Regions from separate parts of the Homo sapiens genome. Here all the other regions are reported to be linked to region 2. The links are microRNA targets in miRTarBase. Many come from high-throughput screens and were not tested one by one. Region 2 holds a microRNA gene; each other region holds the end of a gene's coding sequence.
What was found. Region 2 holds the annotated microRNA hsa-miR-6858-5p (GUGAGGAGGGGCUGGCAGGGAC, at 1,663-1,684, opposite strand). A microRNA usually pairs through its seed, bases 2 to 8, with sites in the 3' UTR of a target mRNA and lowers its output. Matches are read on the target gene's strand: a 7mer-m8 pairs with bases 2 to 8, a 7mer-A1 pairs with bases 2 to 7 and ends in A, and an 8mer does both.

Region 1 (4,104 bases), not on the chromosome of region 2:
TGGGGACAAAATTTGGGGAGTTTTTCTCCTGGAGAATTTGACCTGATACTTGGTGCTGATATCATATATTTAGAAGAAACATTCACAGATCTTCTTCAGACACTGGAACATCTCTGTAGCAATCACTCTGTGATTCTTTTAGCATGCCGAATTCGCTATGAACGGGATAACAACTTCTTAGCAATGCTGGAGAGGCAATTTACTGTGAGAAAGGTTCACTACGATCCTGAAAAAGATGTACATATTTACGAAGCACAGAAGAGAAACCAGAAGGAGGACTTATAATTGGCTATAATTTATAAGAATGTTGTCATTGAGTGTGTCACTTAAGGTCTTAGACTGCAAATCTAACCATATTTAATGAAATGTCTTACTGTACAAAAAGTCTAAGCCAAAGGTTCTCAGGGGAGAAAGCACATGTGCAGTTTTAAAACAAAGCAGTGCTTTGTCCCATTGCTGTGATTTTTAGTCAGACTTTACTCAGTCTGAAATGCAATTAACATTAAAGGATTAAGTGTGAGATTTCGATTTATGCTATTTGTGTATCCCATACTCCTCCCTTTTAATAAACAGTTTCCACTGATGATATGAAGGGCCGGTATAAAGAAGTCTTTAAATGAGTAAGCTTTCTTGGTAAGATTAAATCTTACAAATTATTTTTAAAACCTTGTGATATATACAATGTTTAGCTGAGTTTTCTAATTTTCTGGATGTAAAACAAAAGGTTTAACCTATACATTCCTTGAGCTGTTAGTGCTATTTAAATCTTTTGCCCTGTTTAGGTCCTAAACACTTTTAGTTGAGTAGGATATGAGCTTTTTTGGGTCTCATATCATGCTTTTTGCCTTAATTTCAGGTATATATATATATATAAATAAAGGAATTAAGTAAAAATAAAATTTCAGTTACTTTTTAAAAGCACCTGAAATCTGGCCGGATGCGGTGGCTCATGCCTGTAATCCCACCACTTTGGGAGGCCGAGGCGGGCAGATCACCTGAGGTCAGGAGTTCAAGACCAGCCTGGCCAACATGGTGAAACCCCATCTCTACTAAAAATACAAAAATTAGCCGGGCGTGGTGTCAGGCGCCTGTAATCCCAGCTACTCAGGAGGCTGAGGCAGGAGAATCGCTTGAACCTGGGAGGCAGAGGTTGCAGTGAGCTGAGATTGCACCATTGTACTCCAGCCTGGGGGACAAGAGCGAGACTCCATCTCAAAAAAAAAAAAAAAAAAAAAAAAAAAAAGCACCTGAAATCTTGAATAGGTTTTCTTTTTTTTTTTTTTTTTTTAATTAATTTATTTTTTTTTTATTGATCATTCTTGGGTGTTTCTCGCAGAGGGGGATTTGGCAGGGTCATAGGACAATAGTGGAGGGAAGGTCAGCAGATAAACAAGTGAACAAAGGTCTCTGGTTTTCCTAGGCAGAGGACCCTGCGGCCTTGGCCTTCCGCAGTGTTTGTGTCCCTGGGTACTTAAGATTAGGGAGTGGTGATGACTCTTAACGAGCATGCTGCCTTCAAGCATCTGTTTAACAAAGCACATCTTGCACCGCCCTTAATCCATTTAACCCTGAGTGGACACAGCACATGTTTCAGAGAGCACAGGGTTGGGGATAAGGTCACAGATCAACAGGATCCCAAGGCAGAAGAATTTTTCTTAGTACAGAACAAAATGAAAAGTCTCCCATGTCTACTTCTATCCACACAGACCCGGCAACCATCCGATTTCTCAATTTTTTCCCCACCCTTCCCGCCTTTCTATTCCACAAAACCGCCATTGTCATCGTGGCCCATCCCCAATGAGCCGCTGGGCACACCTCCCAGACGGGGTCGTGGCCGGGCAGAGGGGCTCCTCACTTCCCAGTAGGGGCGGCCGGGCAGAAGCGCCCCTCACCTCCCGGATGGGGCGGCTGGCCGGGCGGGGGGCTGACCCCCCCACCACCCTCCCGGACGGGGCGGCTGGCCAGGCAGAGGGGCTCCTCACTTCCCAGTAGGGACGGCCGGGCAGACGCGCCCCTCACCTCCTGGATAGGGCGGCTGGCTGGGCGGGGGGCTGTCCCCCCCACCTCCCTCCCGGACGGGGCGGCTGGCCGGGCAGAGGGGTCCTCACTTCCCAGTAGGGGCGGCCGGGCAGAGGCGCCCCTCACCTCCCGGACGGGGCGGCCGGCCGGAAGGGGGGCTGACCCCCCCCACCTCCCTCCCGGACCGGGCGGCTGGCCGACCCCCCCCCCCCCCCCCGCCTCCCTCCCGGACGGGGCGGCTGGCCGGGCAGAGGGGCTCCTCACTTTCCAGTAGGGGCGGCCGGGCAGAGGCGCCCCTCACCTCCCGGACGGGGCGACTGGCCAGGCGGGGGGCTGACCCCCCCACCTCCCTCCCGGATGGGGCAGCTGGCCAGGTGGGAGGATGACCCCCCCACCTCCCTCCCGGGCGGGGCGGCTGGCCGGGCAGAGGGGCTCCTCACTTCCCAGTAGGGGCGGCCGGGCAGAGGCGCCCCTCACCTCCCGGATGGGGCGGCTGGCCAGGCGGGGGGCTGATCCCCCCACCTCCCTCCCGGACGGGGCGGCTGGCCAGGCAGAGGGGCTCCTCACTTCCCAGTAGGGGCGGCCGGGCAGAGGAGCCCCTCACCTCCCGGACGGGGCGGCTGGCCGGGCGGGGGGCTGACCCCCCCCACCTCCCTCCCGGACGGGGTGGCTGCTGGGCGGAGACGCTCCTCACTTCCCAGACGGGGTGGTTGCCGGACGGAGGGGCTCCTCACTTCTCAGACGGGGCGGTTGCCAGGCAGAGGGTTTCCTCACTTCTCAGACGGAGCGGCCGGGCAGAGACGCTCCCCACCTCCCAGACAGGGCTGCGGCCCAGCAGAGGCGCTCCTCACATCCCAGACAGGGCGGCGGGGCAGAGGTGCTCCCCACATCTCAGACGATGGGCGGCCGGGCAGAGACGCTCCTCACTTCCTAGATGGGATGGCGGCGGGGAAGAGGCGCTCCTCGCTTCCCAGATGGGATGGCGGCCGGGCAGAGACGCTCCTCACTTTCCAGACTGGGCAGCCAGGCAGAGGGGCTCCTCACATCCCAGACGATGGGTGGCCAAGCAGAGACGCTCCTCACTTCCCAGACGGGGTGGCGGCCAGGCAGAGGCTGCAATCTCGGCTCTCCGGGAGGCCAAGGCAGGCGGCTGGGAGGTGGTTGCAGCGAGCCGAGATCACGCCACTGCACTCCAGCCTGGGCACCATTGAGCACTGAGTGAACGAGACTCCATCTGCAATCCCGGCACCTCGGGAGGCCGAGGCTGGCGGATCACTCGCGGCTAGGAGCTGGAGACCAGCCCGGCCAACACAGCGAAACCCCGTCTCCACCAAAAAAAACCGAAAACCAGTCAGGCGTGGCGGTGCGCGCCTGCAATCGCAGGCACTCGGCAGGCTGAGGCAGGAGAATCAGGCAGGGAGGTTGCAGTGAGCCGAGATGGCAGCAGTACCGTCCAGCCTTGGCTCGGCATCAGAGGGAGACCGTGGAGGGAGAGGGAGAGGGAGAGGGAGAGGGAGGGGGAGGGAGAGGGAGAGGGAGGGAATAGGTTTTCTATTTCAAGTCAAGAGCTGAGGTTTTCCCCTTCTGTTTTACCCTTGCTCAAATGTCTTAATGCAGTTCTTTCCCAAGCTTTCCCTGCTTCCTTAACAACGCATAGGATGACATTAAAAGTTTTAAATCTCATCCCTGCCTGAGAGGTTAGCTTCCTACATATAAGCTCCTTTTGTATTGGACTTGTAATTGCTCATTCAGTGGTAGTATTGCCCTGTAGAGTGTAAGCTCCTTGAGGGCCAAGAATGCTTCTGCCTCTTCCATTGTTGCTTCCCCAGTACCTTCTGTATATTTCATAACCAAATAATGAAAAAGATACATTCCATTTAAAGGGCATTGACTTTGGGTTAAATGATTGTTATATTGTTTTAGGATTATCTATGATACACTTTGACATCTCACACACACACATGAACTTTTCTTTTTACAATGCAAAAGTTTAAACAATAGCTTAAATTTAGACTGCAAGAATATTATAATCTCAATATGGTATTTGGTACTAGAGATAGATTTCTTTTATAAAATCTTAAAAAC
Region 2 (4,000 bases):
CATCAAATAGCCTACTCAGCCAAACACAGTGGCTCACACCTGCAATCCCAGCAATTTGGGAGGCTGAGGTGGCAGGATCACTTGAGCCCAGCAGTTCGAGACCAGCCTGGGCAACAGAGCAATATCCCATCTCTACAAAAAAAATTTTTTTTTAATTCTGTTCCAATTTTCATGTACATAAAAATAAAAATAGCTGGGCATTGTGGTGCACACCTGTAGTCCCAGCTACTCAGGAGGCTGAGGCGGGAGGATCACTTGAGCCCAGGAGGTGGGGGCTGCAGCGAGCTGAGATTGCACCACTGCACTCCAGCCTGGGAGACAGAGCAAGACCCAGTCTCAAAAAAAAAAAAGAAAGAGGAAAGGAAGGAGAGGGGAGGGGAGGGGAGGGAAGAAAGAAGGAAGGAAGGAAGGAAGAAGGAAGGAAGGAGGGAAGGAAAAGAAAAGAAAGAAAACATTAGTCTACTCTCATCTCTATTCCTAGTGACGCCAGGTGGCTACTTCCCGGCCACGCTGAATGAGACACTGGGCCTCTGCACTATCGGGCACCATCAGATCTCCACATTTGCCAGGAAGGGGAGGCCAGACCCAGGGCTGGGGTGATCCTGGCCAGTGAGGGGCTATCCCCTGCCCTTTCTTCTTGGCTTCAGGCCAGGGGAGGAAACAGGGAGCTGTCAGCTGGCCTTCCTCAGCCTCCTGGAGCCAGGCCTGCCTGCCTCAGCTTAGCCAAGTGGAACTTGGGGAATCAGCTGCTGAGGTGGCAGAGTAGGGGTCCTGGACCTACCCCCGATCTGGATCCTGCCCCAAGGGCTGTCTGAGCAGGGCTAGCTAGGGCAGGGCAGGCAAGTGTCGAGCACAGGGCACCACAGCAGAACGACTGTGCTGGGACGGCCCACAGCAAGGAAGGCAGGATGGGTTTTCGTGGCCACAGGACGGCCACGTCCCCTACGGGAAACTCAACAGGAGCCCAAGGGCCTGGGAGAGAGGCCTGGGGAGGAACCCCCTTCCCACCCACCAGAGCCACCACCGCCCAAGGACAGGTGCCCACGGTCAAGAAGCACAGTGCCACAAAGACACCTCAGGGATGGTGGGGCTGCCACGGTGACAGACTCCCCAGGCACGTATGACACGTCCAGAACAGGTCAATCCATGGAGACAGAAAGCACATGAGAGCCTGGTGGGGGGATGTGAGGGGAGGAGCCTGCCTATGGCCACAGGGCCTTTGGAGGGATGAGAATGTCCTGGAAGCAGACCAGGGTGATGACTACACAACATGGCAAATGTGCTAAATGCCACCAAATTGTACAGTTTTAAATGGTCAAAATGACAAATGAATTTGGTCCGAACACAAATGGTTTCTCACAATGCAGGCGCTCCAGCTCTGACACGTGCACTTCTTTATTGGAAAAGAATAAAGCAGTCACTGATGTGGCAGGGGCAGGACACGAGCAGCTGCCGTCCTCCTCCCAGCGTGCCTGGCATGGTCGCAGGGGAGCGGGTGCCTGGAGTCCCGGTGACACCACGGGGCACACTGAGGGAGCTGAGGAGCCGGGGCCGCGCAGCCTCCTGGATGCTCAGCGGATCTAGTGTGAGGACAAGGTGGGCAGAGGAGACAAGGAAGGCGAGGGGTGAGCAGGGGCTGGCTGCCGTCCCCAACTTGGAGGGGTCCCTGCCAGCCCCTCCTCACCGTGTACTTGTCCCACTTCTTTTCAGGGTCGTAGGGTTCCCAGCGGCTGGCGGGAAAGATGTGCTTGTTCTTCTCGTACCAGCTCCTCAGCACCACCTTGCCTGCATGGGACTAAGGGAGGAAGAGGGCACAGGGCCGCCTGCTGACCTCCCCTTCCCTTGGCTTCTCCTCCATAGCCCAGGGACACCCGTTCCCCCTCACACGGCCCCCTACGCTGTACCTCATCCTTCTCCACAGTGGCGTCACTGAGCAACCGCACATCGTCATGAACATCAAAGTTGAAGAGTGGTCCTGCAGGGGAGAAGTGACAGCCCAATGTCCCGCTGCTGCCCCAGTGACAACATCGGCGGCAAGGTGCTATGGGGGCGGCTGGGTCGGCGGCACTCACCACTCTTCCCCCGTGCCTTGGTGACGATGAAGTCGTAGAAGCTGTGATGCTGGGAGCCAAGGGCAGGAAAGCGGCGTCTTGATGGTCCATCTCGGCCCCTCCCCACACCCCCCGCCTGCGCACACTGCCCCCACCAGCCTGAGCCAAAGCCCAGGGTGCTGCACCCACTGCGGGTACTGGGGCTGAAGGGACTCACGTGAGGGATGATCAAGTCCTCCTTGATGTACATGAGCTGCTCCACCCCTGCGGACCTGAGGGAGGAAGGCAGGAGGGCGTGGGCAAGAGGACAGCACCCCTGCCCAGGGAGGGAGGAGACAGCCAGCCCAGGAGAGCCCATGCTGGGGCTGGGAAGCAGCGGCCAGTTGGCTGTGAGGGAAGCTCCATGGTTTAGTGAGCACAGGACTGGCGCCCAGCACCCTCCACCTTTGGGCTAAGGAACCAAGGCAGGCCGCTCTCAGCAAAGCTCTCTGGTGGGAGGGAAGGGAAGAGGAGCCTGACCCCCTCTTTTGGGAGGAGAGTGCCCAGCACGCTGCTTGCTTGCCCAGACAGCGCCCACATCACACTGGGTGTCTGGCACCCAGGCTGGAGCCACAGGTGCCACACACACCACCGTGCACACACGCACACCTCACACCTCAGCTCACTGAAGTCTTTCCGAAGGATCTCGAGCGCCTTCTGCAGGAACTGCTGCATGGTGTTGCCCTTTCTCATCTGTATCCGGGAATCCAGGAGTTGGGAAGGGAAGGCGGAAGCCTGCAGAAGGGCTCTCAACAAGGCAGAGGCCCAGAGGGCCCTGCCAGACGCTGCAGAGCCTCAGCCAGGCCTGGGCCTCACTCCCCAGACAGGGGGCCAGGCCCTGGAGCCAGTTATCCTCAGGATCCCTGGGGCTTCCCAAGTCAGGAAGGTCAGTTCCTTCCCACGGAACCTGAGGGAGGCTGGGCCCATGGTGAGCAGGAAGCAGGCTGCACGCTGCCTACCTTGACTGTCCGCCGGTGCCCAGAGCCATCCCAGTAGCTGAAGGTGATCTCGATCTCCTCACCTACAAGGCAGAGCTGCCTCTTGGTCTCCAGCCCCACTGAGAGCAGCCTTGGGGCTCAGCGCACCACCCAGGAGACTGTGGACAGGGAAGCTGGCTTGGGCCCAGGCCCCTCGCGTCTGACTCCGCAAACACTCACTCTTGATCTTCTCCTGCTTGGCTTCCCACTCCTGCCGCAGCTCTTCCCGAAGCCGATTCTCCTCCTCCTGGGAGAGGGAGCAGGCAGACAGGTGAGGCCCAGGGCTGCTCAGGGTGCACGCAGAGCCTGGCTCCCTAAGCAAGGGTCTCCACCAGGGCTGGAGTCGAGGCCGGGGTCAGGGCCAGGCAGCCTTTACCTCACGGTCTCGATCAGGCAAGAAGCTTGTGTCAACGTCTGGGTTCTTCCCCAGTTTTCTCTTCTTCGTGGTGATCTCTGGAACAAAAGGAAGCCGAATATCATAGCATTATTATAAAAATGATTTTGATATGGCCGACGCCCAGGGTCCCCCAAGCATACCTTGAGAACAGTCGATCTAGAAGACAAGCCTAGGGCGGGCACAGAGGCTCACGCTTGTCAACCCAACACTTGGGGAGGATGAGGCAGAAGGATCACTTGAGCCCAGGAGGTGGAGACCAGCATGGGCAACATAGCAAGACCTCGTCTCTACTAAAACTCAAAAAAATCAGCCGGGTGTGGTGGCGCACCTGTAGTACCAGCTACTCAGAAGGCTGAGGTGGGAGGATCGCTTGAGCCTGCGAGGTCGGGGCTGCAGTGAGCCGTGATCAAACCACTGCACTCTAGCCTGGGCAACAGAGTGAGACCTCATCTCAAAAAAAAAAAAAAGAAAGAAAAAAAAGAAAAGAACAACAAAAAAAGACAAATCTAAACTCTTTAGCCTGATGCTCAAGGGCA
Region 3 (4,104 bases), not on the chromosome of region 2:
TCTTTAAGCCTCAGCTTCTTCATCTTGCGTTGTTGGAGGATTAAATGAGATTTAAATGAGTGCAAAGTTCAATAAATCATACACATCAATTCTCCAACAGCATACACATTTCAGGCATTTTAGGAGCCCCATCTCATGAAGGAAATCCATACTACTGTGGCAGATGGGGGTGGGGAGGCACTTTCCACTCAACACCTCAGTTCAACTCTGGCCAGTGGCACCTGCCGGGGTGGCTTGGGGCTTGCCACCTGGAGGCCCAGCTCCAGGGACACCCTTCACAGAATATCCTGTGGGAACGGCACCCCCCTCCAAGCACAACAGGGCCCCTTGAGTTTTCAGGTATCAAGACAGGAGACGACACGACATGAGCAGTGGGCTACCATTATTAAGCACTTAGTGTTTGCCCAGCATGGTACAACAATCTGGTAGGTGGGTAGTTTATCTCCAATGACACATGGGGACAAGGGGATAAGTTATCTTGCCCAAAGTCACACAGCCAGTGAGTGTTGGAAGCTGGATTCAAACCCAGACGTCAGATTCCAGAGTCCATTCTCTTCAAGGCTGGACTTGACCCCACCCTGACCCAGGGCCCAGATTTGAGGGCTCTCTCTGAGCCCACCTGACTTTCCTCCAGGGTCAAGGCTGGCTGGGTCCCCTGGAGCCCTCTCCTCCACCCCCACACCCAGAGGACAGGCTGCATCAGGGGTCTTCCCACCCCCACCCCATACCAAGGCTGCTGGAGAGGAGCCTGGCCCAAGGTGGCGCTGCCCCTCTTGGACCTCCAAGAATGCCGCATGGAGCAGCCCCTCAGGGCTGTAGTCCCTCTACACCTACATTGGGCCCCTCCAGCCTGGACCCCCACCCCTCCCACTTCCTGGCTTCCCATCCTTCAGGTCTCGCAGAAGCCTCCTCAACACCCTCCCTGCTTGGTCTCTATCCTTCAGAACCCTCATCACAACCTGTCCTTGCCTCTAGAACGGAAGCCCCATAGCAGCAGGGACCACGTATCTGTTTTAGCTTCAGTTTCTAGCCCAGTGCAGCATTGTGAAAATCCTTAGTAATATTTTTAAAAAGTTTTCGAATTCTACTTTTCTTTGCTGACTTGGCATGTGCTTTCTCCTCTGCCCGTAACCCCCGTTCCTCCTTATTTCCTTGCTAACACCTACTCGTCTTTCAAAGCTCCATGCCACTGTCTCCTTGAGGAAATTGTTCCTGTGCCCCCAGTAGGTAACACACCAGACAGAGGCGAGATTCTCTATCCCGCCCCAGACAAGGAGCCTTTGCTTTGCAGGGCTCCCCTTGGGACCCTCTCTTGCCAGGAGAGCCTCTAGAGAAGCCATCTAGAAGGGCATTCAAGACTCAGCAAGCTCCAGCTCCCAGCCTGGCAGACTGGGTGGGGGAGGGCCCAGCTGGTGGGCGAGGCTGGTTTATCGATGTTGCCGAGAGCCCTGGGGAAATCAAGGTGAAAGGCAGCCACGCTGCTGAGGAGGCCCACCCGTTTATCAACCAGAGGGGCTGGGGCCGGGCGAAAAGAGGCTTGGCTGCCAGAGGCAGCTGTGAGGTGGGAGGTCCACACCACTCCGTGGACCTGGAGGCTGGGCTACACACTGTGCAGCCCGGGCTGCTGCGACAGTGTTTCCAACATGGCGCTAATTCTAGGTAACTAAGTTTGGCTTTAGAAATACCGTCACTGGAGCCACAGGGCTTGCTGACAGAAATCCCCAGCACTTGGCATTGGGCAAGGAGCCCTTAGGGGGTGAAGGGCAGGCTTATTCAGCGGCCTTGGTGCAGTGGGCACACAGGGCACCGGCCCTGGGAGCCTCTGTCTTCCTCTTGCAGGCCAGGGTTGCCTCCTGATTGTGGGTTCCTGTCTGTCTCTCAGGCCCCCAGCCAGGGCCAGCCCAAGGGAGCAGGGGGTGCAGAGCACAACCAGGAGGATGGAGCCAATGGGTGCCTGGAGCAGGGGCACAGAGAGGGAGTCCAACCCAGGAGCCCAGCAAGGCGCTGCAGCTAAAGAGGTCGAGGGAAACATGCAGGGAGACTGCCATCCCTCCCCAGCCCCAGCTGCCCCATAGCAGGAGTGGCCTTGGCATCCCACCTGCTCCACATAGCACCCAGGCCATCTGAGCAGAGTGAAGATGTCAAAGAGAAAACCAAATCGGATTGAGGCTCCTGCTCCCCCTTAATGAGGTTCATTATCAGCAGCTCTGATCCTTGTAAAACCCAGCAGGCCGGATTAGGGGCAGGCTCTCTAATCCTGGCTGACTCCTCCCCACCGAGTGGCCAACCCTGCAGCTCTGACAAACAAGCCCTTGCTTCCTGGAGGAGCTGGAATTAGGCAGGTGCAGACAGGCTTCTCCCTCACCAGCCCAGGGCACTGAGGCAGGAGCTCTCAGGGAGGATTGGGGCAGGGGGTGGCAAGGCTGCACATCCAGAGGCCTGTCTCCGTGCATGAAAAGGCCATGGGGTTTGGGTGCAGACAGTTCTATGGGCAGTCTGTGGCCAGGAGCTGTGTGTGCTGAGGGACATCGAGTCTGGCTGCATTCCAGGTGAGGCTGGTCTCTGTGCATTCTGTCCAGACTGGACACTAGGTCTCCAAGTAGCAAGTTAAAGAACACACCAATGCTTGCCTTAACAAAAATAATTTATTCCACACACCTCCCAAGGCAGGGGGTAGCGTGGGAATCAAGCATGTGTAAGGCACTGCCCCCGCCAGACCCTTCTAACTTCTGCACACTGGAAGGTGAAACCTGGAGAGAGAAGACACTCCCCTCCCTAGCTTCTACCTGGCACCCTCCAAAGATGAGCATTCATCTTGGAGACCAAAATAAAAAAGGACAAAAGACCAGGCTCAGAGGGAGCAGAGCTCAATGGGGGGAAGTGAAAGCAGCCATCTTCTCCTGCAGCTAAGCCAGGGCAAGGCACTAGAGACCCACATCCTTCCCATGCCACCAACTCGTCAGGTCCCACCAAGCAAGCCACTCACCCTACAGCCCAGCAACCATGGCTTGCCTCACCTGGGAGACCAGCACGACTTCCAGAAGCTTCCAAACCCCACCCTGAAGCCAAACCCCACCCAGGAGGTCTGAGGAGCTGGAGGCTGGCCAGGCATAGAGGGCCCGGGGTGGTCCTTCCTCCCAGGGTGCAAAGGCTTCTTCATTGTCCGGAAGGGAGCAGGGTGGGCGGAGCCCCAGCAGCTAGTGAGGAGTTCCATTCCAGCCCACCCAGCTGGGGGACCCTCCTCTGGCTTCACTTGCCCCAGTTGAGGGCCAAGACCAAGCAGGAGAGACTGAGGCTCCAGTGAGAATGAGGCAGGACTTCAAATAAGCTGAAAAACAGGAATGTGGTGCTAAGAGGCCAGGGACTGAGCTGCCCTATGCCCACTGCCCGGGGCTGCCCTCCCTGCACAGCAGGGGAACCTGGACCCTGCTCCTGTCTTTTGTGTCAAAGGAGCTCTCTGTCCTAGCAACCCCAAGAAGCTTCACTGGAGCAACTCGTTTTCCTGAATTTCCCACACTTCTAGGCCAGACAAGGAGCAAGGGGTGGGAGGGGAGGGAATGGGGTCAGGGGGCTTGAGGTGCCTAGAGATGGCAGCTCCCTCTCCCGCCTCCTCCCCAGGTGGTTCAGGCTGCAGGGTGGCCAGCATGGCCCTTCAGGGCCCTTATCTTGGCCTGGAAGTAGGTGTACATGGCCAGCAGGCCCATGAAGGACAGGGAATAGAGCCCCACACAGAGGCTGATGTCCAGGTAAGAGAAGCCCCCTCCCAGCACCTGCAGCCACTGGCCTCGGCCCCGTCCAGCTCGGGCCTCCAGCTGGCCCTCAGGGATGTCGACCAGCTGCTTGGAGCTGCGGCCCACGCGCCTGACCTCCAAAGGGCCCCAGAGGCGGTTCTTCTCAGCCCTGGACTCAGCCAGCAATGCAGCCCCTGTGTCTCGCTTGCTCAAGTGCCACTGCCCAAGCGGCTGCTCCTGCTCATTCCTCTGAAGCTCTGCCATGTGCTCAGGAGGCTCCTGGCCTGGTGCAGCTCTGAGGCCAGGGTGCAGCTTCGGGGGTCGACTTGCCTCAGGTCCCTCAGCCGGCACATGTGGGGTGGTGTTTGTGGGG
Region 4 (4,104 bases), not on the chromosome of region 2:
CTTATCTTTCCTTCATTTCTTCTTCTTTCCTGATACTCCAACATTTCTCCTTTTATCATTTACTTTGTGTTTGAAGAACTTCCTTTAGTCAATCTTTAAGGGCAGGTGTGCAACAAATTACAGGTTTAGGATTTAAGTTTGGAGGATAGGAGTTGTATTAGTTTATTCTCATATTGCTATAAAGAAATACCAGAGACTGGATAATTTATAAAGAAAAGAGGTTTAATTGGTTAATGGTTCTGCAGGCTGTGCAGGAATTATGATGCTGGCATCTGCTTGGCTTCTGGGGAGGCCTCAGGAAACTCACAATCATAGTGGAAGGTGAAGAGGGAGCTGGCACTTCACAAGGCCAGAGCAGAAGGAAAAGAGAAGTGGGAAATGCCACACACTTTTAAACAACTAGATTTTGAGATCACTCATTCACTTTCACTATGACAGTACCAAAAGGGATGGTGTTAAACCAAAACCACCCCCATGATCCAATCACCTCCCACCAGGCCCCACTTCCAACATTAGAGATTACAATTCTACATGAGATTTGGTGGGGACACAGATCCATACCATGTCAAGAGGCTTCTGAGGCTTCTTTTTAAAATTTCTGTCATTTTTTTCTTGGTATAGTTTTTGCCTTGTGGCTAGTTTTAATGTATGCTGATCTAGTTTGCCTTTATAAAGATGTTTAATTTAAAATAAGTTTTTCCAAGTACTATTTTTGTTTTTTTGTTTTTTTTTTTTGCATCTTGGTTAGATGATCCAGTCCTACCTATATGGGCCCAGGACATCAAAACATTTAATTTTGACTATACCACTCTGATTAATTTTATCTCATTAAGACATAAATTGCAAAACTTTGAGCTATGGTGACCTGGCCCCAGAAAGATGTAATTAAGACACCTTTAGGAAAATAAGCAACCATACCATAGACTGGGAAAATATATTGGCAATCTGGACATGGATCCATATTTAAAGAGCTTCTACAAATACCCAATAAAAACACATAACCTAAATTTTAAAAATGGGCAAAAGATTTGAATACACACTTCACAAAAGAAGATATATGAGTGACCATTAAACACTTGAAAAGTTTTCAACATTAGTTGTCACAGAAGCAGAAATGAAAATCACAATGAGTTACCATTTCAGACCCACTAGAAAGGCTAAAATGCAAAAGACAACACCAAATGTTGGCAGGGCTGTGGAGTCAGTGGAAGTTGTAGGTAGTACGGGTGGAAATGAAAATGGTAGAAACACTGTGGAAAACTATGTGGAAGTTTCTTATAAAGTTAAGCATATACTTACCCTGTGATCCGTCAATCCCCCTAATCGTTCATTCATAATCAATCCTTAGCACTCACATGTTTTCCCTGCCCCCATATTTTCTCTGCTCTTTATTTTACTATTCTCAGGTTTCTTCTATTCTCTCATTTTCTATCTTCAATGGATTCTTTCAAACTAACCATAAAAGACTCATTTCTTCCACATTCATTCTAGGTGGTATATATGTGATGCCAAAATTATAATCATCATAATAATTTAGGATTAAATATCTATTTTGCCAAAATAAGATGGCAATTATTTTCAGGATGATGGCTATAGATGTTAGTTATGTGTCAAAGGTAACAATGAAAATGGAACATAAACCAATATAAGAAAGACAGTATTTGGATTTTAAATTTTGTTTCATGGACAAATAACACAACATTCTTTAACAATAGATCAAAAATCACATCATAGTCATTTGAAAAGTTCATTTATTATATACCAATATACACTTTCTGTAATAAAAAAGAAGCCTCCCAATACATTGAGCCATCTTATAAATGAAATAAGAAAATAAAATTTTCATCTGTTTACAAATGGGGTTAAATTAATCAGCACAAGCTATCATATGTATGTCTGCCCTGCAGTATATATGAATTTTAATCCTGGTTATGAAGAAAAAAATGGTGCTTTATTATTTGGCACTATAGGATGCTCTTGAACATTCAGAAGATACCTTTTTCCACTTTTTATTTTTGTATACTTTTTAGATGAGTGAAAATGTAAATATATCCTAAAGATGCTATTTGGCAGATTTTTTTCAAATAATAGTAGCTCAAAAGTACGTGTATGATACTTGTACTTCATAATTGGCTTTACTAAAATATAAAATACACAAGTGATCTTACTATGATTTGAAAAAAAGGTAGTGAACTCCAGAAGTTTTAGGCTGTGAGTAGGAATTTTTAAATCCATTTTATGTAAGTTTGTTATAGAAGTGAGCAAGAATGATCGTGTGCATTTCTTCGTAGTGTTAGCACTTATACTTTTACAGAGAACCACTCAACACTGTATTAAATGGCCAATGAATGTCAGCAAACACCTGTGTGAGCTAAACTGAACTAAATCCTATTTTAGATATGCTAAATTAAAAGAACAACTTTAGTATGATAAAAATTTGCAAAAAGAAACTTATTTTCTTGTAGATCATCCTATTATTGTAAATATTGAAGAAGAGCATTGCCAAACTATATATAACTTAGGTTTCAAATTTAAATTATCCCCAGACATTTGTAGACAGATACATATGAATGGATTTTCGAGCCCACCAACTTAATTCCCTGCCCCCACCCCCAATAATATAAATGCTTTGACTGTGAAGAAAGAAAACTACACATGTAAAAAATAAAAATCAAATGTACCTTACATTAACATTCTGATGACTACAGAATAAGATTATATACATAAACATATAGCAAATCACAGTTTCCTGCACTGAATGTTTATCAAATAAAAATGTATCAAACAATACTGGGTAGTGTATCTCCACGATTGTGGTCTTCTAAAAATTCTGAATGAGGATGGAAGACGAGAGGGAGAGCATTGTTCAATGACAAAAGTATGACAAGAGGATTTAGGAATAACATGAAAAAGCAGATGCTTTCTAGAACAGGCAGTTTAGCTATAAGCATTATTTTTGTTGTTGCTCTATGATTGAAATAAAGCCCCTCTCTATATTTAGTGTTTTAACATTTAAATATAGATGTTTTAACATTTACAAAAATCTATTGAATATAGAAGTCACAACTCAATGTCACAAACAGGGTGGGCAAAATATTATTTTGCTGTTGACAATAAGATGCTCTAGACTGGTGTTTGACCATTCATGTACCTTACAGAAACAGAAACAGTTCCTAAGACATGCCTTTTGCCTCTGTTAGTAAACAGACCAGAGACTTTGGTGCAAGACTGAGAGAAGACATTAAATGGTGATAGCTTTGCCACCAGGGCATTTTTGTTTGATGTTCTGAGAATGCAAATGTTTGGTACTTTTTTAGGGGGTGCAGGATGAGGAGACGGCAGGGGAAAGAGTACTATCTGATGATTGTTACATGCAGTTACCCTTATTCTGCTCGTAAAGCAGCAAAAATACACCTTCATCATCTCACACTGCTCTAGCAAAACCTGGGTAGAAATGTGCACCACAGGTTTTATTTTAAACACATACACAACCATCCTTGACAAAAACAGTGATTTTCCTCTTCTGCAGGTGCCTGGTGATATTACTGGTAAACGTCTTTGGAATCTTCCTGTTATTTCCTATGAATAACATTCCAATCAAGATAATTCAAATATCTTTTGGAGTATAACTTGTAACCATTTCCAATAGAAAAAGAAAGTATTTTTCCTTGTGTTAGTGATGCTTGGAATTTGGAGGATCATAAATCCAGTCAATTATAATGAGTGCCATGCTTCCAATCATGAAGAATATTCCAACCACAAGGAAAATTAAAGCCTGTAATTCAGAGAGACTCTGTTAGGAGCACAGAAACCATACTTAGTACAATTTGTTTTTTAGTTGTTTACATAATATGGCAATCTGATCTATATATTGAGCCATATTATTCTTAATATCTCAGATGCCCAGGCCTAACCTATCAGTCAATTTAGAATCCTAGTTGAAGAAAGAAGAGGAATACAGTGGAGAGATACAACCTACAGGTTCAACAATGGAGTAATAGTTAATTGATTTAGTACACCAAGATGATGGAATACCCTGTGATTATTAAAAATCAAGGGACAGAAAAAGATTCAATAATCTAGAGAATGCTTACAATCTTTTAG
Region 5 (4,104 bases), not on the chromosome of region 2:
AACTAAATAAATAAATAAAAATACAAAAAATTAGTTGGGTGTGGTGGCACGCGCCTGTAGTCCCAGCTACTCAGGAGGCTGAGGCAGGAGAATCGCTTGAACCCAGGTGGCAGAGGTTGCAGTAAGCCTAGATTGTGCCACTGCACTCCAGCCTGGGCGACAGAGCAAGACTCCGTCACAAAAAAAGAAAAGAAAAAGTTGATGTAATTTAATATGATATATAGCTTACATCTGGTTCTTCCTTTTTGGGGTTTAGTATAGTCTTACAGACTGAGTTCTTTTGTCTTTTTTTTTTTGGAAGATGTTTTTGCATGAGGATCTAGATTGAATTAGTACCTGAAACTGTGTTAATGAACTTGCTTTTTTATGTACTTATTTTCCAGGTCAAGAGCAATCTGAATCCAAATGCAAAGGAGTTTGTTCCTGGGGTGAAGTACGGAAATATTTGAGTAGACGGGGCCCTCTTTTGGTGGATGTAGCACAATTTCCACACTGTGAAGGCAGTATTAGAAGACTTAATTGTAAAAGCTCTCTTGTCACTGTGTTACACTTATGCATTGCCAAAGTTTTTGTTAGTCTTGCATGCTTAATAAAAGTGCTGAGACTGTTACTAAGTAAAAAGCTGTCAAACATTTACTGAAAATAGAATTGGCCCCATGGCTTGATGTGAAGACAGCAAGGAAAGAAGCACCAGTCAAGTTGTGAACAAGCACCAAATTAAAAGACCTAAACCTTACCAAATTGTCTTTTTTTGAGGCTAATCTATCACTTGTTAATGTCTAAACTTTAAAATCAGTACATTTAATTTGAGTTCCAACTGTTAAGCATATTTCTCAGACTTAAATTTGATTATGTCCCCATCAAAAAGAATCTCCATTTTCTGAAGGTCTGTTAGTTAATTTGAGATAATTTGTTAAAGGCAAGTATGTCATATTACTGAGGCTACAAGTTAGTCAGCAGATGAGTGCCAGTCCAGCCTTTTCTGGTATGTTATTGTTAGAAATATTGAGTTCTAATGTTACATCTGAGGAAGTATGTAATTTGAGAATTGTAACTTCTAAGGGATTCACTGCATCATAGCTATGCCTGTATGGAGTCTAACATATGACCAATACCAACCCATAATCCAGCTGAACAAAGATACTGTAACATGATTTGAGTGGTGCTTTTCCTTGCTTTGTTAACCATCACGAGAGTCTGCAGCACAACTTTTAACAAAGCTAGAACAGTTTTGGCTTCTTAAACTTCATATTTGGGTAGGTTAAGCTGCCATACGTGTTCAGTGTGAATAGTGTTTAAGTTGAAAATATTGTAAAAAAATTATATTTTTTCAAAAATATTTAAAAAAATAAATAATAGTAGAACTGAGCAGATGGTTGTGTTTATTGGTGCTGGAATGTACTGTAGTGGTGTTACTCACTTGAGTATGGGCCCAGTGCCTCAGGACAATCTTGCTGGCAAAATGTGCTAAGCTTTCAGGCTTTGTTAGATTCTAACAGGTATGTTGCCATGCAAGTACCTTTCCAGAATATAGCAGTAGAATAACTCCATTGCCCATCCTTGCTTCTTAATCACCTCAGACTTCAGTGTCAGGGGAATCCTAGATAGTCATGTAAGAAACTTTATGGCTGACCAATATGATGGTGACCTTACTCTAATAGAACCTCCATTGTTTTTTGTTCTTCACAAGGGCTTTTTTTGAGCTTATTAGGTTGAAAAAGATTAAGAGAGCCATATAGTCAGTTCTGACTCACATTCTTCTGGCAGTGGGTATGGGGGAGGTTCTTTGGTGTGGGCACCTGTACCCCAGTGTGTGGTTGGTTGGTTGGTTGGTTTTTGGAGACGGAGTCCTGCTCTGTTGCCCAGGCTGAAGTACAGTGGCACGATCTCAGCTCACTGCAACCTTCACCTCCCAGGTTCAAGTGATTCTCCTGCCTCAGCCTCCCAAATAGCTAGGATTACAGTTGTGTGCCACCACACCTGGCTAATTTTTGTATTTTTAGTAGAGACCGAGTTTCACCATGTTAGCCGGGCTGGTCTTGAACTCCTGACTTCAGGTTATCCACCTGCCTCGGCCTCCCAAAGTGCTGAGATTACAGGCGTGAGCCACCGCACCCAGCCTTTATTTATTTATTTATTTATTTATTTATTTATTTATTTTCAAGACAGAGTCTCACTCTGTCACCAAGGCTGGAGTGCAGTCATGCAATCTCAGTTCAATGCAACCTCTGCCTCCTGGGCTCAAGTGATTCTCCTGTCTCAGCCTCAAGTAGCTGGGATTACAGGCGCCTACCACCACGCCTGGCTAATTTTTGTATTTTTTTAGTAGAGATGCGGTTTTGCCATGTTGGCCAGGCTGGACTCGAACTCCTGACCTCAGGTGATCGCCCTTAAGAGTAAAGATTCTTGAATGTGGCTTTTGTTGGGAAAAAAATTTAAAAAAAGAAAAGGGGGCTCTAGGCTGGGTGCGGTGGCTCACGCCTGTAATCCCAGTACTTTGGGAGGTCAAGGTAGGTGGATCATTTGAGGTTAGGAGTTTGAGACCAGCCTGGCCAACATGGTGAAACTCCATCTCTACAAAAATAAGCTGGGCATGGTGGTAGACGCCTGTAATCCCAGCTACTCAGAAGGCTGAGACAGGAGAATTGCTTGAACCCGGGAGGTGGAGGTTGCAGTGAGCCGAGATGGCGCCACTGCACTCCAGCCTGGGCGACAGAGCAAGACTCTGTCTCAAAAAAAAAGGAAAAGGGAACTCTAGCCAGACTTCCTGGATGTGAATCCTGTGATCATGGGCATATCACTTAACCTTTCTGTACCTTCCTTTCCACATCTCTAAAATAGCAGTAATAACTGTCTCTGGATTATGTGAGTAGTTAATATATATAAGTACTTAAGACATAGAAAGTCCTGTTTTAAGTGTTGTTATTTTTACTATTAAGGAGTCATCTAGGCTAACCTCTCTTTTTGGGAACTTTTCTTGTCTGTCTGAGGGAACGTGCACATTGAACCCACTTCAGTGTTTAGTAGAGAGCCAGGCATCTGCATTACAGATAGTGATGGAAGGTTTCCGAGCATCAGCTGCCCATGCGTTCTGAAGACCTAAGGACAAAGTGTCACCTCATCAGGGCTTGTACAGGCATCGTTTTAGGATAAAGGCATCCTGTTTTAAAGGGTTTTAATTTTATGACGTTATTGAGACAAGGCAGTGTATATGAGAGGATTTTTCCTGTTCTTGTGCTGCATTTCTCAACATTTTCCATGTCGCATATCAAAGTGATACTTGTTTAGCATACTGGAGTACAAGAATGAGGCTGCCAGTGGCTAGAGTTCTTAGCTCAAGGACTCCAATTGGCCCAGATTCTGCCCAGGTGTCTGGAAGGCTAGAGGATCTGCATTTCAGCATACTTGTAGCCTCTTAGTGGCCCACACTAGTTGGGAAGTTCTGCTGTTACTATGAAATGGTAAAGGAATTCCACCCAAAATCCGTATGTTGACTTTTTACCCAGCTCACCTTCTCTTTGAGGACATTCAAACAGTTTACAAGAAAGAGAACTGAGTAGTTTGGTTTTTCTTTGGTTAAAGCATAAGAATGTTTTGATTATTCAACCCTCCCACAAAAACCATAGACACATCCTACCTTTCCTGGAAGTCATTTTTCAGACCTTGGTGCACACAGATGCAGTTTCTGTATTTTCTGGAGTGTCTTCTGGAATTGCAATCTGATCTTTTGAACTTGAAGAAAATCCTTTGAAGACTGGGCAGATAGGAATGTATTTCAGAAAGGTAATTCTTTTTACTATGCCCATCCCAATGGGGAAATCGTAGCTCTTGAGGCTGGAAGACATGTCACTGTTGGCATGAGCCCCAGCTTTCCACTGTATCAGACCACGCTCCTCTGGGCTCCCTGGAAGAGGATAGTGAGGTCATTTACCAAGGCCAGCAACCCTCAGCCACCCCCACTTCCCATAACCCAGTCCTAAGGCAGACTTCTGGAATCAAGTATCTTCCTTAACTATCATTTGGTCCTAAAACGTGGCTGAATCTATGGTTTCTGAGCTCCTAACTTGGCCAGAGCTCTAAGGAACACTAAAGGATACTAGTTAT
Region 6 (4,095 bases), not on the chromosome of region 2:
CATCATTCTGCAATGAGGTTTTTGTCATTTGGTGAGTAAACCAGCTCCAATCTCCCATCCTGAATGCCTGCTTTCTAGGGCCATTCTGGGTACCAATCGTCTTAGTTTGGATTCCCCAAAAAACAGAGCCTGAGAGAAAAGCTTGAATGAAAGTCATTTATTTGAGAAGCGATCCCAGGATGCAAGAGAGATGCACAGGAGTGAAACAAAAGAGGAAAGCCAATATAAGGATGGTTATTGCCAAACCCGCCACAGAAGTCTCCTCCTCTTTTGAGGAGACTTACGAAATGCATTTCAGAACTGTCTGCCCAGGTGATGAAAAGAGTAATCAGTTATCCACTAGCAACTTTCCACCTAGGTCAAGGATGGCCCCATGGGCACCTAACTCCCCTGCACCTTTGGGCTGTGCAATTGGGAGTACCAAACAAGTTCTGCAGACATTCCACGTCAGGGAGGCTGAAGTGAAAGGTATACAGCTAGAATCCAAAGAGAGGTACTATCATATTCTCTGAGAACCTGGTCAAAGACTTCATGGAATTAGTTACCACAGCAGTGACTGGAGTAGAAGGCAGGGCAGAGAAGATCTGAAGTGGGGCCCAACATTTCTGATGCGTAGATCAAAGGCTTAAGGCTGGAATAAACTCAGCATGTTTGAGGAATGCAAGAGAAGGGAGAGTGGGTGAAGACATACTAAGCCTTGGTGAGTATGGTACTGAGTTGAAGCAGGAAGAGATCAGATCCCACAGGAGTCTGCAAGGCTGAATAAGGAATATACATAGAATGAATAGTGCTTACTACTGAATAAAGTAGTCCAGGAAAGACATTCTTTTTAATATTAAAAGATAAAGCCCCAATATATAACCCATCTGAGGATTTCTAATCATAATCTTCAGCATCAAATTACTGCCTTTATAACATAGTTTGGGGAGATGAAAACAAAAATCACAGATCAACTATTTTCTCCCACTACCAGCAAAGAAAAAATGAGGAACCTATGACTTAAGAGCAGTTGCTAGAAATTTTAAAGAAAGGGTTCACTTTTATGTCAAGATCAGACAACTTTAAATTATTTAAAGATCCTGTTACCCTTGCTCTGTTGACTGCCACTTCAGTGTTTCTTTCAGGACACTCCAAACAGCAGACAAGAGATAAAGTGTTTCAACTGTGTCACAAGAGGACAGAAAGTGGCTGTTTGCATCTGTTTGGGTCTAGTGTCAACCTCAAAGTTACTCATTAGTATCCATAAAAATAAAAACTTAGGACAAAAGGTTAAGTGTACAAATAGAGGAAACACACATTCCATAAAGGAGAGGGGGAAAGATTGAATTCTTAAAGCCATACTAAATAATATCCTACAATGTGCAAGCAGAAGTGACCTTAGAGAACGCTAGCCTCTAAATGACCCAGAAAGTAAATTATGACTAAGTATGAAAGCCAGACATGACATGATGATAAAATATGAGCTGATCAGTATTAGAAAATATATAATTTGGTTTATTTCCTAATTCATAGAATCCTAAGACTTGATGGTGCTCTTAGGGATCATCTAATCCAAAATTACTGCCAATGCAGGGATTCCTTCTATAAAACCCCTGGGGATCACTAGCAACATGGGACTTTTAGGTTGGAGACTCTAGCTGGTAGTGGGCAGTTCTACGTTCACCACTAAATTTGCTCTTATTTGATTGCCAGCCCTTAGTCTTAGCTTTTTTAAGGAAAACAGTAACTCATTTCATAAATATTTATAGCAAAGTCTATATATGCTTGCCACGCAATTTGAGAGTTAATTTCTTTGTTTCAAGTGTAGGAATAATTATCAGTGTAAATTCCTCCATTCTAGATGAACAGCTCCTTAAAGACAAGACCATATATCTTGTACATTTTCAAATTTCTGCCTTAAACAGAGCACCTTGCTTATATTAGGATTTCAAATGTTTGTGAAATGATAAATGAATGGAATGAGTGAACGAACTGAAATGAAATTAATGCCCATATTTAAAAATAGAATATTAGCTGATTTCTTGCCGAAGTTGTTAGTTCAAGAGTGAAAAAGAATACTCAAGTATCTGAAACATTTCTCTAAAACTTTATTTCAAAGTTATTCACCTCACCGTTAATAAGGTGTATGATTAATGCTCTGTGCCAGTATTTGCAGGCCTGCCCATTGCCGGCAATGGACTTTGAGAAAACCCATTTCCTGGCACCCAAAAGTTAAATTACTCTTTTCAAAACATACCGATCTCCCCAACACTTGCAAAAGTATTACATGCACCATTTTGCCACCATTCTTTAAATCAGAACTTACATTATTAATCTACATCAGTGAATGTTAAATGAAGTCATTTTAACAAATTATGACTGTACAAATCAAAATACTACTAGTTAATATTAGACAAGAGTATCTTACAAACACTACTATTACATATTACCTTGCAATCTGAAACATTATATTTCATATTTGTGTATATTTATTTTAGATAACTGAAACTTCACAGAATTTAACAGCAAATAAAGTTTAAAAAATTTAGTTCTGTACATTAGTTCCAACTATCCCTATTTTACAATCTATAAGGCTCATGTCATAGTTCAGCACCAAAAAGATCTACACAAAACTGTTTAACCAATCTTCTTATCTATCCTGTGTGATAGTTTTGTTTGTTGTTGTTTTTTAAGGTAAAAGTCCTACTTCAGACCTTGAAGTGGAATACTTCTAGTCAGACTAGGTAAAAACTTGGGTCATACCTTATTTTCATTGAACAGATACCAAAAAAAAAAAAAAAAGGAAAAGGAAAAGAGCTGTGTTACACCATGAATTTAGGTTGTCAGCCTCTATGTTGAATTTATAACACTGAAGCATCAGAAATAGCCTAATAATGCCCTGCCCCTATTCTTCCCTTCCATTTTAAATTTTTAAAAAAGTAACCAGAAAAATGTTTCATTTATTCTTTAAAATAAGGTGCAAAGAAGGACTGCAACAACAAACTCCCTCATCCACACCTCCAATAACATCTCACTGTTGTTCAGCATAATCTACCATGAACTGATTCAGGAGCACACCTAGAGCTATATTCACAGCTCCTGAATGTACCATGTTTTCTATACCAGAAGCCTCTTCAATGGCAGTGTTTCTCTGTTCAGAGGTCATTACAATAACTTTTGTCACTGCTGGCCTGGACTTAACATTCCAGATTCCAGAGCCAGTGTTTTATTGTCCCAGCTCTTTTCTTCCTCTTTAGGATTTATCAATTTTAGAAAAAGGGCATGTTTGTTTTGCTATTTTCAAAGGGTTTGTGCGTATCACATTTTACCACATTTTACCCCAATTTTACCACACTGGGGAATGTTGTCACATTCCCCAAGCTAGAAATGTTTTCCAAAAACCACAGGTACTTTCTGTAATCTTGTTGTTCAAAGTACAAAATTCTTACATGTTAAAAAATTTTTTAATTGGAGATTAGTACCTCTGCTTTCTTCTGACAGAAGTACACAATTCATTATACCATGTTTAAAAACCAAACATCATGCATACAAATGGCCAAAGAGGTATGAAGTTTTACAGAGCCCTTAACATCATTCGAGTACATTTGGCATTGGCCAGACCACAACAGGAAGCATGTCAGCAAATAGAGCAAAGAGACTTTCCCAAGTACACGATAGTCATCCAGGCTCCATGTCAGTCACATAAAAATTTACATAACATGTAATCCTTTAAAATTATCCCCAGATATCCCATTCCTCCAACTGTTCCCATACCCCCACCCCATGCCCACCCCACCCTGAAGTCTTGCACCTCACAGAGTATCTTAATGTTCCCCATTACTAATGACAGCTGCTTCAGGTTCTGCTGCTGTGGCAGGGAGTCTTGGTACTTTCTTGGCAGGGCTTGGAATATGCTAAAATGAAAGGAAAAAAGTTGATGGCTCTTATGATTCTTTCCCCCACAAGAATCATGGCACCAATTAAAGTTTCTGTAAAGAAACTTAATAAAGGACAACTCTGGAGAAGTTTATGCTAAATATATATTTTATATAACTTTTCATGAAGGGAACTCAATATCCATTTTTCACCTTATGGTGAATTTAGTATACAATTATC

Region 1: miRTarBase lists METTL21A as a target of hsa-miR-6858-5p. The part of its 3' UTR that is shown has no 7-base or 8-base seed match.
Region 3: miRTarBase lists QSOX1 as a target of hsa-miR-6858-5p. Seed matches in the 3' UTR shown: 7mer-m8 at 3,202-3,208, 7mer-m8 at 3,087-3,093, 7mer-m8 at 1,483-1,489 and 7mer-A1 at 1,198-1,204.
Region 4: the mRNA of SLC38A4 is a reported target of hsa-miR-6858-5p. Seed matches in the 3' UTR shown: 7mer-m8 at 3,329-3,335.
Region 5: the mRNA of SLC23A1 is a reported target of hsa-miR-6858-5p. The part of its 3' UTR that is shown has no 7-base or 8-base seed match.
Region 6: miRTarBase lists HMGCS1 as a target of hsa-miR-6858-5p. Seed matches in the 3' UTR shown: 7mer-A1 at 652-658 and 8mer at 271-278.

The regions. Positions count from the first base shown.
Region 1 is chr2:207,609,227-207,613,330 of GRCh38, reverse strand. METTL21A (methyltransferase 21A, HSPA lysine) reads left to right here. Exons shown (of 4, transcript NM_001127395.5): 4 at 1-592. The coding sequence ends at 285. Among named protein-coding and RNA genes, the nearest start is that of METTL21A, 14 kb to the left of the region's middle.
Region 2 is chrX:154,448,004-154,452,003 of GRCh38, reverse strand. MIR6858 (microRNA 6858) reads right to left here and starts at 1,684; the gene lies at 1,618-1,684. FAM50A (family with sequence similarity 50 member A) reads right to left here. Exons shown (of 13, transcript NM_004699.4): 5 at 3,444-3,520; 6 at 3,248-3,314; 7 at 3,050-3,111; 8 at 2,707-2,783; 9 at 2,269-2,323; 10 at 2,073-2,121; 11 at 1,905-1,975; 12 at 1,685-1,795; 13 at 1,350-1,580. The coding sequence ends at 1,572.
Region 3 is chr1:180,196,557-180,200,660 of GRCh38, reverse strand. It overlaps QSOX1 (quiescin sulfhydryl oxidase 1), which reads right to left. Exons shown (of 12, transcript NM_002826.5): 12 at 1-4,104. The coding sequence ends at 3,624. Among named protein-coding and RNA genes, the nearest start is that of LHX4, 32 kb to the left of the region's middle.
Region 4 is chr12:46,763,028-46,767,131 of GRCh38, forward strand. SLC38A4 (solute carrier family 38 member 4) reads right to left here. Exons shown (of 17, transcript NM_018018.5): 17 at 1,734-3,775. The coding sequence ends at 3,674. Among named protein-coding and RNA genes, the nearest start is that of SLC38A4, 61 kb to the right of the region's middle.
Region 5 is chr5:139,368,350-139,372,453 of GRCh38, forward strand. It overlaps SLC23A1 (solute carrier family 23 member 1), which reads right to left. Exons shown (of 15, transcript NM_005847.5): 14 at 3,638-3,904. The coding sequence ends at 3,657. It overlaps PAIP2 (poly(A) binding protein interacting protein 2), which reads left to right. Exons shown (of 4, transcript NM_016480.5): 4 at 384-1,368. The coding sequence ends at 449. Among named protein-coding and RNA genes, the nearest start is that of SLC23A1, 13 kb to the right of the region's middle.
Region 6 is chr5:43,287,328-43,291,422 of GRCh38, forward strand. HMGCS1 (3-hydroxy-3-methylglutaryl-CoA synthase 1) reads right to left here. Exons shown (of 11, transcript NM_001098272.3): 11 at 143-3,893. The coding sequence ends at 3,804. Among named protein-coding and RNA genes, the nearest start is that of HMGCS1, 24 kb to the right of the region's middle.